4 separate regions of the Homo sapiens genome follow, and regions 2, 3 and 4 are each reported to be linked to region 1. Evidence: microRNA targets listed by miRTarBase, many of them from high-throughput screens and not tested one by one. Region 1 holds a microRNA gene; each other region holds the end of a gene's coding sequence.

What was found. The annotated mature microRNA hsa-miR-1298-5p reads UUCAUUCGGCUGUCCAGAUGUA and lies in region 1 at 2,121-2,142, opposite strand. An mRNA with a match to its seed (bases 2 to 7 or 8) in the 3' UTR can be bound and repressed. Matches are read on the target gene's strand: a 7mer-m8 pairs with bases 2 to 8, a 7mer-A1 pairs with bases 2 to 7 and ends in A, and an 8mer does both.
Region 2: the mRNA of NR2E1 is a reported target of hsa-miR-1298-5p. Seed matches in the 3' UTR shown: 7mer-A1 at 1,641-1,647 and 7mer-A1 at 1,549-1,555.
Region 3: miRTarBase lists SLC30A9 as a target of hsa-miR-1298-5p. Seed matches in the 3' UTR shown: 7mer-A1 at 646-652 and 7mer-A1 at 1,248-1,254.
Region 4: the mRNA of SYNPO is a reported target of hsa-miR-1298-5p. Seed matches in the 3' UTR shown: 7mer-A1 at 1,079-1,085.

What each region holds. Positions count from the first base shown.
Region 1 is chrX:114,714,147-114,717,391 of GRCh38, reverse strand. MIR1298 (microRNA 1298) reads right to left here and starts at 2,159; the gene lies at 2,048-2,159. All of the region lies in intron 2 of HTR2C (5-hydroxytryptamine receptor 2C), which reads right to left.
Region 2 is chr6:108,186,807-108,190,051 of GRCh38, reverse strand. It overlaps NR2E1 (nuclear receptor subfamily 2 group E member 1), which reads right to left. Exons shown (of 9, transcript NM_003269.5): 9 at 1,247-2,751. The coding sequence ends at 2,589. Among named protein-coding and RNA genes, the nearest start is that of NR2E1, 22 kb to the right of the region's middle.
Region 3 is chr4:42,085,490-42,088,734 of GRCh38, forward strand. It overlaps SLC30A9 (solute carrier family 30 member 9), which reads left to right. Exons shown (of 18, transcript NM_006345.4): 18 at 593-3,245. The coding sequence ends at 637. Among named protein-coding and RNA genes, the nearest start is that of BEND4, 66 kb to the right of the region's middle.
Region 4 is chr5:150,656,874-150,659,873 of GRCh38, reverse strand. SYNPO (synaptopodin) reads right to left here. Exons shown (of 3, transcript NM_007286.6): 3 at 667-3,000. The coding sequence ends at 2,787. Among named protein-coding and RNA genes, the nearest start is that of MYOZ3, 2.9 kb to the left of the region's middle.

The DNA.
Region 1 (3,245 bases):
TTTTTTAAATTGTAGAATAGACCATGTGCGATGGCTCACGCCTATAATCCCAGCACTTTGGGAGGCCGGAGTGGGTGGATTGCTTGAGCTCAGGAGTTCAAGACCAGCCTGGACAAAATGGCAAAACCCCATGTCTACAAAAAATACAAAAAATTAGCCAGATGTGGTGGCGTGTGCCTCTGGTCCTAGCTACTTGAGAGGCTGAGGTGGGAGGATCCCTTGAACTCAGGTGGTCGAGGCTGCAGTGAGCCCTGATCACATCATTCTACTCCAGCTAGGGCAACAGACCCTGTCTCAAAAAAAAAAGAAATTGTAGAATATAGTCAACTAGATCACTTCTGTCTCACTTTTTATAACAAAGCATTTAAAAATTGAATAAATAATAATACATATAGAAGTTTGATTTTTATCAATTTTCAGTGTTCAGAAATTATGACTCATAATTCAAATATTATCCCTCTAGTTATTATACCCAGTGAGCTTTTAGCAGATGTCTAAATCAAAAATGAATTAGCCATAAATGTTCAGATTAGTCCTGGGAAGATTATATTAATGTGGCACAGATTTACAATAATTTTGGGGGAGCTCATTTAATTCAAAAATTATCCTTAGGACTAATGAATATTGTAGGAAGTTTTCCTTTCAACTTCAAATGTACTCTAGCGATTTTCTAATAAATCATACATTTGTCATACTAAAAACTCACCTTTGCTAATTATAGTCAAATCAGATAATTTTTATTATTTTGATAGAAAGTTTTTCAGTTATTATCATCAATGAAATTAAAGACTACTCTTCCACCAGTGATTATTCAATTTGAATGCAAGTCTAGGCTCATTACTTTTATTCCCTCTCCTCCAAGATAATGTTAAGTGGTTATTTAAATAGATTTACCTGTTCCTCCTATGCTTGGAATTCAAATGGAAAAAAAAATTTTTTTCTCCTCATTTGTATTTACTAAATACCTCTGCTTGTGTTTGACATGTTCCATGAGCGTGATTATTGTTAAATTATGTGCGAATTCACACAACAGTTAACTCAAAATCTACAGCATATAAAATTATGTTTTTCACAGCTAGACCTATTCCATTTACATAAAATAATACTTTAAAAACATACACTTCCCAATTGATAGACTTAAAGTAGCTATTGCAAATCACTCTATGATGGTAGTAACAGACATGGAGAGAATTTGCCTTAGTGGGCAGAATGCCCAGCAATTTGAAACTGCTTTCTCCATAGGTGGTAGCAGAACTATCTGGGAATTATCTCAGTGTTAGTATGCACATAGCACAACAAACTGAAGGTTTTCAAAGAGCAGAGCTAATGGAGCAAACCATATGCTAAATATCTGTGTTGGAGACCAACTCCAACCGATCTGCAGGACCAAAAGCTGTATAATAGTAGTTTCATATATTCAAATATTTATCGATTGCTTATTACATGCCAGGCACTATGCCAGATGCTGGGCATGTAGTAGTAAACAAGGTAAACCAGGCCCCTGCTCCAATGGAGCTTACATTCTAGCTGGAGATACAGAAAATAAACATTTAAACAAAGATGTAGGATAATTTCAAATCGTGATAATTGCTATGAATAAAATGAAATTGCATCATGAGATAAAGAGTGATTGGGGTAAATACATTAGATGGATCCATGTACATAGCCATAGCTTGAGGTTAGATATCTTTTAAATATTGTAATATACAAATAATATTTGCCAGCATTTGCCAGCTACTCTCCATCACAGTATAAAATAGTTATTTTATACCGGTGAGTTAAGTACACGACAAGTGTCACTGATGGGAGCAGATCAAAATTTTCTGTTAATTTGATTTTAATTTTGCAAGCTAGAAAAACAAATCCTCTTTATCTTTTGTCAAGACACTTAAAAATCAATTTAGTTGCATACTAAAATACATTCCCACTTACATTTACAATGGTGTCTCTTCACCCACAAGCAATTCCTACTTCCCATTTCATTAGATTAAGAGATCACAAACTTTTCACTTTATAACAGGCTCTTCTGGTTGTGGAGGGTTCCAGCTGAGTCATGAAAAGTGAAAAGTTCAGTCAGTTGCCCAGATGTATTTATTGCCAAATAACACAGGGTACTTGGATACATCTGGACAGCCGAATGAACTCTTAACTCCTCGTCTCTCCAACAGCTCTTCCTTCTCGGCTTCAAGACATCCTATATAAAGGGGAAAGAAACAAACAAAAAGCTACTTCAAAGTTGAAGGGTCAGTTTCTGGTTTTGCTGTCTCATCTGGAAAAAAGAAGTGACTTCTGCTATTGTTTTATAACTTATTGATATAAAATGTATACAACTCATAAAATGTAGAAATAGCTAGAAGTACCAGATGAATCTTGTTAAATTCAAATATGTCATGAATACAGAAAACTGAGACAACAAAAATTAATTTGCATAATGAATAATTTATATAATGTATAATTCATTCTAGTATCATTCAACACCCTAGCCGTTAAATATGTGTGATTAGCATAAAGGACATTAGGCTGGGCAGTAGGAGACATGAGTTCTAGTCTTGACTCTTACCACTTCTTGATGTGTCACTCAAACTTTTTGAGCCTCACTGTTTTCATCCATGACACAGAAGTTGCAATAGAGGACCTCTATCCCTTTTTGCTCTGAAATGCTGTGAATTGGGTTTTCTTGCTAAATTGTTGACATTATTCTACGCTGTTTTACAAACAAGATACTTCTAAATAGCTGAGTTTGGTTACAATTAAATCTTACTTGTTATTGCTAATTAAATATAAAACATAGCATTCACCTGACAAAGCCTTTTGTTTGAAAGGAATGCGAAAGTGACTTTTAACTTGAGTATTCTCATAACTCAGTCTACACATCCCACAAATTAATATGTAGGTATTCTGTACCATGCCTTTATCTACTTCCTTAAATGAATCCTTAAATACATTTCTCATTCTTAAAGAGTTAGGAGACCACACAGACTCATAAAAATTTTAAACAAAATTGTTTATTGGTGATTTTATTTTAAAAAATCTTCTGCCTAGAATATTTTACAGAAAAGTGAAGTATAAGAAGTAATGGCCAGTTTTGTAGCTATCTAAAGCTTGGCTTCTACTTTAGTGGTTTAATTCTCAGGTAGAATCTGTTTATGGTTTTGTGTACTCTTCTACCATTTTGTTTATTTATGGAGAAAAATAGTACTTCAGTTTGACAACTTTGAAAATAGTGTTTCCTGTCCCAGTTCTAC
Region 2 (3,245 bases), not on the chromosome of region 1:
CCTGTGAGCAAGTTATAAGAGTTTGTTGCTGTAAGCTTTGAGGGATGTTTGTTATTCAGTATTATTGAAGGAAAACTTGACTGATACACAGATGAACAGCCTTGGACCCATCACTCAGCTTTACTAAATCTTGTCATTCATCTCATATTTGTTTGAGATTTTTTTCTTATGAAATTAACCATTACAGAAACATTTGAGGGTCCTGTTATACCCTTCACCCATCCCATCTCTTCTTGGAAGTAGCCACTATCCAGCAGTTAGTGTTTATAATACTCATGCCTGTTTTAAATGTTTCCTATACATTTATATGCCCATAAACATTGTCTAGTATTGTTCTGTAGGTTGTAAAACTTTATATAAATGATACCAAGCTGTATGTGCCCTCTGCAATTTACTTTCCCCATAACACACACAAACACACTGTATTTCAGATTTACCCATGTTGATACATTAGCTCTAGCCATTCACTTTGCCTACGGTAACATTGTCTGTATTCACCACAATGTACCTATTATCTGTCAATGGATACTAAAGTTGTTAAATACGAACAGTGTTGCAAGGGACATTCTTACACAGTCTTTGAGTACTGTGCTTTTCTTTAAGACCAATTCTCATTCTCCGTAGAATAAGTAGACAAGAAGTGCACAGCTGATTGAAATTTCACATATACGGTCCGCAAGACCATTTTAGCAAGAGCAGAGGCACAAGCATCTCTTGCTGGAGCTGCCACCCAAAAGGAGTCTACAGTGCCTGTGGCCTTGGGCACCTCTGATGGCCTTTGCTTGTGGGACCGGTGCCTTAAGACTTGCTGGGAACATCTGGATGACATTTCTACTGCTCCCTCCACATCTTACTCACCATATGAACTTTATCATACTTTATCTTTTTGATCATTAAATGATTTCAAGTGACTGGTCAGGATTGAAATGTTGGCAAGAGAGTTAGAAACAGAGGAAGGAATGAAGACTCTGTTAATCGGCCTCCTTCCTCCTCACACAGCAATTTTTCTAACAGATGCAATTACATTTGAGAGCTGTAGAGAACAGAATCTTACGTTTTATTTCTTTATTCATCATTTTCCAAATGGTATTCACTGTAAGAAGGAAATTGCCTTTGTAGTTCAGTTCTGCAGGCTCTGTGCTGGAGTGCTCCGAGCTTCAGTTTTAACACCAGCTGCTGCCCCTACCTTGTTTCTGGTGGGTGAGAACCAGCCAGGGAGGGAGGGTAAGAAATCAGAAAGAGTTCATTTAAATTCAATATATTTTTATTCTTTGTAAATACAATGAGTACAACCTTTTAACTTCACAAATCAGTTAATTCACTTTGTACAAGAAAAGTTTTACTCATCCTATGATAGTCCAAGTGCTGAATTTTTTTTCCTCAGTGCTAGTACCTAATAAATCAAAATGTGAAAAGTACAGCAGCTATTTAAAAATGTTTGTTTCTACATTTCCATAAGTATAGAGTCATACCAAAGGAGCAGCTTAAAGTGTAGGACGGTGTGTGTGTGTGTGTGTGTGTGTGTGTGTGTGTGTGTGTGTGTGTGTGTTCATTCAAGGCTTTACTAGAAACCAGTTTTCGGAAAGGCATTGAAGAGTCTCAGGCTGTTAGCAATGGATCAGTCAAGAACCCTTTTAGCATTCATTCATCTCCTTGAAGTTCCTTCTGCAATTACGTCCATATTCGTTTCCTGTCTGGTGTGACTTGCTGCACCACGAGTTTGGACCCCCACTGCCTTTGGTTTCAGCACTATGTTAACGGGACAGCAATCTACCTCACTCAATCACTCATCTCCACTTTATTTGGTTTTGCTGTTTTTATTCATCCTCCCTTGACTTATGTTCTTTTAGTAAAGCTCTTCTCTTTTTGACATGTTATCCAACCTGAAGTCCTGGTGAGAATCTCATTTTGTCCATCAATTCCTTTGACAAGGTTGCCTGGCCTATGGTATTAAAAAAGAAGAAGAAAGAACAAAAGAAAGAGAAAGAAAAGAAAAAAGAAGATAGAGAAAAAGCAAATCACATGGCATAAGCTACTTTTCACTTATTAACTCAGTTCTGAAGGCCACTTAATAATGTATTACAATAGAGGGGAAACTTTTGATAACACTTTTAATTTAAAACCTACCATTATTTTTAAAATAAATGCTCCAACATAACGTAGTTTTGAAGGCCGCAGTACGATGTTATACACAGAGCTATATTTGGTTACCAAACTTTGTATGCTAAAAAGGAAGAGAAAGCACTACTTATGTTTCAGCTTTTGATCGTTCAGCCTGATCTTCCAGGTAAGAGGCAGAATGGCACGGCCTGTGGCAACCCCCAGTTTGCCCCCTCCCAGGGCATGGCAGCAGTGAGTTTTCAGTGCAGGCGGTCCTGTTGCACCCCTCTCCTTCCCACCCGCCCTATCCTGGTCAGGGCGGCAGGTCATAGCTACTGGAATGCTTTGTGTCAATTGGCATTTTTTTCCTGAAGGCTACACATTCCCCGGTATATGCTTCCTGAAGGGTTTGTTAGTTGAGGCTTGTTCTCCATGGGTTGAAGTTCATCTGATACTGTCCCATCCTGAAAAGTGGGTATCTTGTGAGCTTAGATATCACTGGATTTGTACATATCTGAAAGCAGTCTTGTAATTGGCACATTGCCGATGGTTTTTTTGAAAAACACTTCTTCTATAGTTGATGGGCTAATAGAACGTAAAGCTGGCAAAAGCAACAGGAGTTTTCCAAAGCGACAGGGTTGAGTGGGATATCTGGAATGTGAGAAGCCATGAAAACAAGGTCAGAGGCCATTACTTATGGAAACTAACGTCTTACACTTGAACACACATCATCTCCAGCATTGCTGATCTAGGTCTCTTGAATAACACAGTATCCCTGCAGCAAAGTTCTGGACAGGCACTGTTGTCCCCGTTTTGCAGGTAGACTACTTGAGGCAGGGAGACCATAAATGATGCTGCCAAAATCACACGGACACCCTCTCTACATTAACAAATGGATTGCATTTTGTTTGGGAAAAAAAAAGAAATTTAAGAAGCATAATACTAATTTTAAGCCAAATAATAAATTTAAGGTTTCCATTATAGAAAACGACCAGGGCATTGAGGATAAGGCTAGCAACAGAACCCATGTTTTCTAATTCTAAGGACTCCTCAAGGCTATTTCCCTCAAATAAAATGGCTTCTTTTTCTAAGCAATTCTCCAAATTATTATTCAGGCATTATACTTAGTCTCTCTCAGGAATAAT
Region 3 (3,245 bases), not on the chromosome of region 1:
ATGTGCTCATGTAACACAGTACTTGATACATGAGTGAGTAAGCAATAAATGTTAACTTTTTATTATTAGCTCTAATACTTTAACTTGTAGATGATTACTGCTATGCTGGTCTCCCTAGCTAAACTGAGTCACTCAGGGTCAGGAACAGAGTCTTATTTAATAATCATAGCTCTGTTTTCTAGCACAGGGCCCGGCCCAAGAATATATGGATTGTTGCTAAAGTATATAAAATGAGTGGTTGTCAATTTACTCTTTTTGATTATTATTGTTTTGCAGTGATTTTGTTTTCACCACACAAAAATGTGTATTTCCAGTGCTTCGCAATGCTTGGCATGTACTAGATCCTTAATGCACTTTTGTATTAACAAACACATGAACAAACTTAGGAATGTGATACTACTTATTGTACTGTTTATAGTATGTCTATTTACCTATTGATCTTACTTTTTTTCTTATGCAACTATTTCTCTCATTAGTATGCTATAGTGAAATAGTTTGCAAATGTTTTCATTGGCTCTAATGACCAAAAGGAATAAAAAGAAACAAGATTTTATTTTGCTACAAATAATGTGGTGGTGATTTTTCTTTCCAGAAACGAAATCCTGAAGTTCGACATGTAGATTTGGAGATACTGTGAGTTTGATGGAATGAATCACCTGGGTGGGGACCTTGGAAACAAGTTTGTCCGTCCACTCTACAAAGTTTCCTCCTCTCCTACACTGAAAGACTCAGTGCCATGCAGAAGCCTTTTTTTTAAGATGAAGGAAATATTTTATGTAAAGAGCAACTCAGCAGGACACAGAACTAAAACTACTACTTACATCTAACAGACACACTACAAGTTGAATCAATTTGAAAATCATGTTTTTATGCTTCCATAGGGAACATTTTGGTTATTTAAATTGTTCATAATGTCCCATATTTCACCTGTTCAGTGTATACTGTACTTTGCAATCATCTTTCCTTTTTTCACATTGGTAAAAATAAGTGGCATCCATAGGATCATGATTTTTAATTTGTTGCCTCTGAAGATTTCACTCCATCAAGATCTGCCAATCTTCAATATTCTGGCTAAATCTTGGTATGTGGTTTTTAAACAGTCACTCCGTTTCAAAGTCTGTCTTTCCTTATAGAATGTGGAAATTATTTCTCCATACCTTGTGATTTTGACCTGAGTGCTAAGAGAATCACTCTCCTTACCTAGTTATCTACAAATGTTCATTCCAGAAATGTTTAGTTACTGAATTGAATGAAGACATCTCAGTACACTCTTTTAGGTCATAGTAGTTGCCATTTTGTAAAATTTCTTTTTTCTTCTTTGCTTTTTTCCCCTTATTTGGTTTAATTTTTCTAATGTTAGGAGATATAGTCCTAGATATTTCCATGGGCCAGTGTGATGACTTTTTTTTAAATGAGGTTCAGTACCATAATGTTTATTTACTGGAAGATAATGCATTTATAAGCATTTTAAAATTCTGTAAAGTGGGTTAGAAATATTTATAATTTTACAGGCAGGACAGCATTTGACTTTTATTTAAAAGGCGGCACTACTTATGTAAATCTGAGCTGTGGGATATTTCTTGCTTTAAGAGAGAGACAGAATCTCTCACTGAAACTCATGGTCATGATTTTGTATAATATAGTTCATACTGTGTCTGTGAGTTTCTTCAGTTACAAATGGGCATTTAGTATAGTTATATTGACTATAACATGTAAGTAAATAGCTTTCTACTGACCCTAAGTTATCAAGGTGGAAAAAAAACATGCAATTCAGTAATTGAAAATGTGGTGAAAAGCTGCAGCTGTCATCATCAAAACAACTCATAACATACTTTAAAATGTTCAGGTAGCAGTGAGCATTGTTCATATGAGAATGGCGGCTGGGTGATCTCTTTGCTGAATTAATGAGTTCTTAACATGTGGACCCAACTGCCTGTGTGAGATCTGTGTCTTAAAACTTACTGGAATGGAAATCTATGAATTATTGCAAATTGTAATGCTGGAAACAAAAAATAAATCCTTGGTTAAAGGGTTTGTAATGGTGATTTTTGACCCAGAAATCTCATTTACTGGAAAATTGTGAGACTTTACGTTGGTGTATTTTTCTTTTTTTTTTTTTTACTATTACAGAGTATTTTGCATGCTGTACATTTTAAGTGAAATAACATTCCAGTTTTATTTTTAAGATAGAAAATTGTTATATATATATATAATTTGATACTCTATTCTTACAGTTTCAAATTCCTTATCCCTTCTTTACAAAAAAAACTTTTTTTTTACCTGTTATGATTTATTCTATACTTTTTTCTTCTTCCTTCCCCTTTCCCACTTGCCATTTATTACTTCATGTCATTGCCATATGAGAAAGTACCAAATTATATCCAGTTTCCTCCTAGTGATATTACTCTGAAAAATTTCACAAAGCCAGACAAGAATAATTACTCATTTTTTTTCCCAAGACGACCCTCAAAGTTAATGTGCAGCAGGTATTCCAAATGGTAATTTTTTTTTTTTAGGATTCCCTAATAAAAAAAAAAAAAATTCTGATATTTCTTTTTAAATCTGATTTTGGTTGAGGTCATACCATTCTTAAATAATAATTGAAGGTTTATGTTGCCATCTTTTCTAATTCTGTTTTGCACTGATAAACTTACATAAAGTTTGTTTATGTAAAATAAGACATAAAGGAGTACAACATATCAAGGAATTTGAGTATTTATGTGGAATCAGGAAATTTTTCTAGAGTCACTGAATTTTCAAATCAGAGAATTTGGGCTGGATATGGTGGCTTATGCCTGTAATCCCAGCACTTTGGGAGGCCGAGGCAGGAGGATTGCTTGAGCTCAGGAGGTCAAGACCAGCCTGGGCAACACAGCGAGACCTCATCTCTACTAAAAAAAGTTAGCCGGGTGTGGTGGTGCTCACCTGTGTTAGTCCATTCTCACACTGCTATAAAGAAATACCTGAGACTGAGTAATCAAAAAAAGAGCTTTAATTGGCTCATGGTTCTGCAGACTGAACAGGAAACATAGCAGCTTCTGCTTCTGGGGAGGCCTCGGGAAACTTCATTCATGGCAGAATACGAAGGGGAAGCAGTCATAGCCAGAGGAAGAGCAAGAGGCGGGGATTGGGGGTAGGTGCCACACTCTTGTAAACAACCAGATCTCATGAGAACTCACTATACAGTACCAAGAGGGGAAGGTGCTAAAGTATTCATGAGAACTCCACCCCCGTGATCCAGTCAT
Region 4 (3,000 bases), not on the chromosome of region 1:
TCAGAAGCCTAGATTCTGCTGTCCACCACCCTGACCTTAGCTTCCTGGCCCTCGGTGGGCCTGAGCTTCTAGAGAGGAAGAGTGAGGTGTGTTCCCAGGGCAAGCTTAGCCTCACCTGGGAGCAGGATCACAATCCCCTTCTCTGGCCAAAGGACACTCCTGCCAGGAGAGGATGCCTCATGGCCCGAGTCCTTGCCTCACTGGGGCTGCCTGGCTCAGACGGGACCTCTTACAGTGGCGCCTTTCCTGCCCTGGCACCCCCACCTGCCATGAGGAAACAGCCTCAGAGCACAGAGCCCTGACCCAGCTTGGCCCTGCCCACTCTGGTGATAGTGCTCTGTGGTCAGGGCCTGGACAATACCACCCTGAGACATTACCTAGACCCACTCTCCCCATTATACGGATGGGGAAGCTGAGGCCTAGAGAAGGAGTGGGCTCACCCAGGGTCACCCCGCTCGTCCATGACAGGACCAGGACTGCAGTCCAGGTACTTCTATGGCCTCAAGTTGTCCGTTGTTCCCATCTCTCCCCATGGCTGCTTCTTCCCAAGCTCCCATCCCATATGTCTCAAATATTCCCAGCCACCCAGAGTCCCATGGACTGCTCCATGCTTGGGGAGAAGGGAAGGACATCAGACACAGCTGAAAATGACACAGGAGGCAGAAGAATGCAGGAAGCATTTATTGAGGGCCAGAGCTGCATTCTACAAGAGGCAAGAGGCAGGACACAGGCAATCTCTAGTGGGTTAGAGGAGAGGTTGGGGAGAGGGCAGTGACAATGAGAGAACAGCCAGGCGCTGGCTTGGGAACTGCCGGTTTCTCAAGGCTGCCTCCTGCTAGTCCTCTGGGAAATGCAGGTAGAAATGGATCCTCTATGCTACTGCCTCAGCCAGAGGCCTGATGGTGTCCCTTCCCTGGGAGGGGCCCTTAGCCCCAGTCTCCTGTGCTACAAGGGACCCAGCAGCAGGTAGGGGCTTTGGTAAATATAGTCACTCATCATTAACTGAGTAAGAGCACCTTCTCATCTTCACAGCAGCAGGAGCATTCCTGAGGCCCAAGGAGCCCTCTAAGGTCACTCTTTCATTCCAAAGCACCCTGTCCCAACCCTATCTTCCATACTGACCTTAACTCCCTCCAGCCTCACTTGGGGGTTCCAGATCTAACATCACCCCGGTAAGTCCCAAACCCAAACTGTCCCTCACCTTTAGCAACATCCTGGTATCCTTTCACCTACATACGTTTGATCCTCAGCCAATTCCATACCCCCAGCTGATCCTGAAGCTAATATTCTGAACCTCTAGAAGGCTCTACCAGCCAACTCTGGAAACTACAGAACTCAGCCATATTCCTCCCTGAGTCCCCCCTGGGGACCTGAATCACAGCCACCAAGGTTTAGGGAACCAGTGAGGGCCTGCAGCCAGGCTCCCCCAGGTCACTGGGCACCAGGCACTAGCTAGGTCAGAGTGCACTGGGGAAGGGATGGGGCAGGATAATGTCTACTTTTCTGGGCACGATATGGACACTGGGACTGAGGTCTGACACTGAAGAAGGGGACATTTCCAAGGGGACCAGAAATACAGGCAGACCCTAACTTAACACCCTGCTCACGTACCCAAGCTCATCGGCCCCTAAATTCAAGCCCAACTAGCCCACCACCACCACCCACCCCCGACTTCCTAATATCATGGAATGCATTTCAAGACTGGAAGAGCCCTCAGGGGTCATCTGAGCCAATCCTGTCCCCTGCTAGAATCTCCTCTATGCATCCTGGCCATGCTTTTCATATTTCCCGTAACAAGTAACTCTTTGTCTCTCTCTTTCCCAATAAGCAACCCCAAACTGAGGGCAATCAGGTAAAGTCACATGGTAGCTCTGTATCTCTTCTCTCCCCAGTTCAGCTTTGAGCCCAGAACCTGCCATGAATGGGCCCAGAAGGAACAGATGAGCTGGAGGCCCAAGTCCTGGGCCTAAGGGAAATCACTGCCTTATAATTCTCTTATGGCTGCAGATAAGATGTCCTGGACAGTCTGAACTGGGATGGAGAAAGTAGCATGACAGGGACCCGGGGAGAATTTTCCTGCCTCTTCCCTCCAGAGGGGATAGTGGGACACCTTGAGCTGGCCTGGGAGACCTCTCTAAAGGTCATTGTGATAAAAATAGAGCTTGTCTGGGAAGGGATGGAAAACAGCTGCTCCTGCCTGGGACTTGGTGCCAGGGAGCCGGATGGTCAGGCCAGTGCCTGGACATGCGACACAGGCCTAGGACCTTCTGAACACACCCCGCTTGCCAGACTCCAGACAGCAGAGCCAGGAGGGGAGGGACGAGTATGGAACCCTGAAGGTAGCAAGTCCAGGGGTCCATATACACACTGCCCCGCCTCATCCAAGGCACTAACTAGTGTGTGTGTGTGTGTGTGTGTGTGTGTGTGTGTGTGTGTGTGTGAGAGAGAGAGAGAGAGAAAGAGAGAGTGTGTGTGCATCGGTGTGTGTACTGATGGGAAGGGGAATTTTGACGTTTGTGGATTGCCTTGGCCAAAGCCACCATTAAACAGATGGGAAAGCTGAGGGTCAAACAAGGAAGGGTCTTACCCAGGGTCACACAACAGCTGAATGAGAGCAAGGGCTAGAACTCAAGCTTGCGTCCCTAACCCATCCCCAACCCCAGAGCTCTCCTCTGCTGACCCCTCATCTCTGGGGCTGCCCAAAGAGGCCAGACCCTTTGGGTCCCCCAGGTCTAATGAGCCTTCTTCTGGCTCTGCCCTCCCGGGGTGGGGTCGGGGGTGGGGCTCTAGGTGGTGCAGGAGGCCTCGGCGGGGAGGCTGCCACGCTTGAGCCGAAGGCTGCCATTCCACCCGCGGGGACAGATATTGTAGCCCAGGATGCCTGGAGACTTAGCCCCGGAGTCCTCGGAGTCGAGGGACACGTCGGAGTCCGTGGGCGAGCGGCGGTAGAGGAAGGGCCTGGGAGGCGCGGGCAGCGGGCTCCGGGGACTGGTGCAGGAC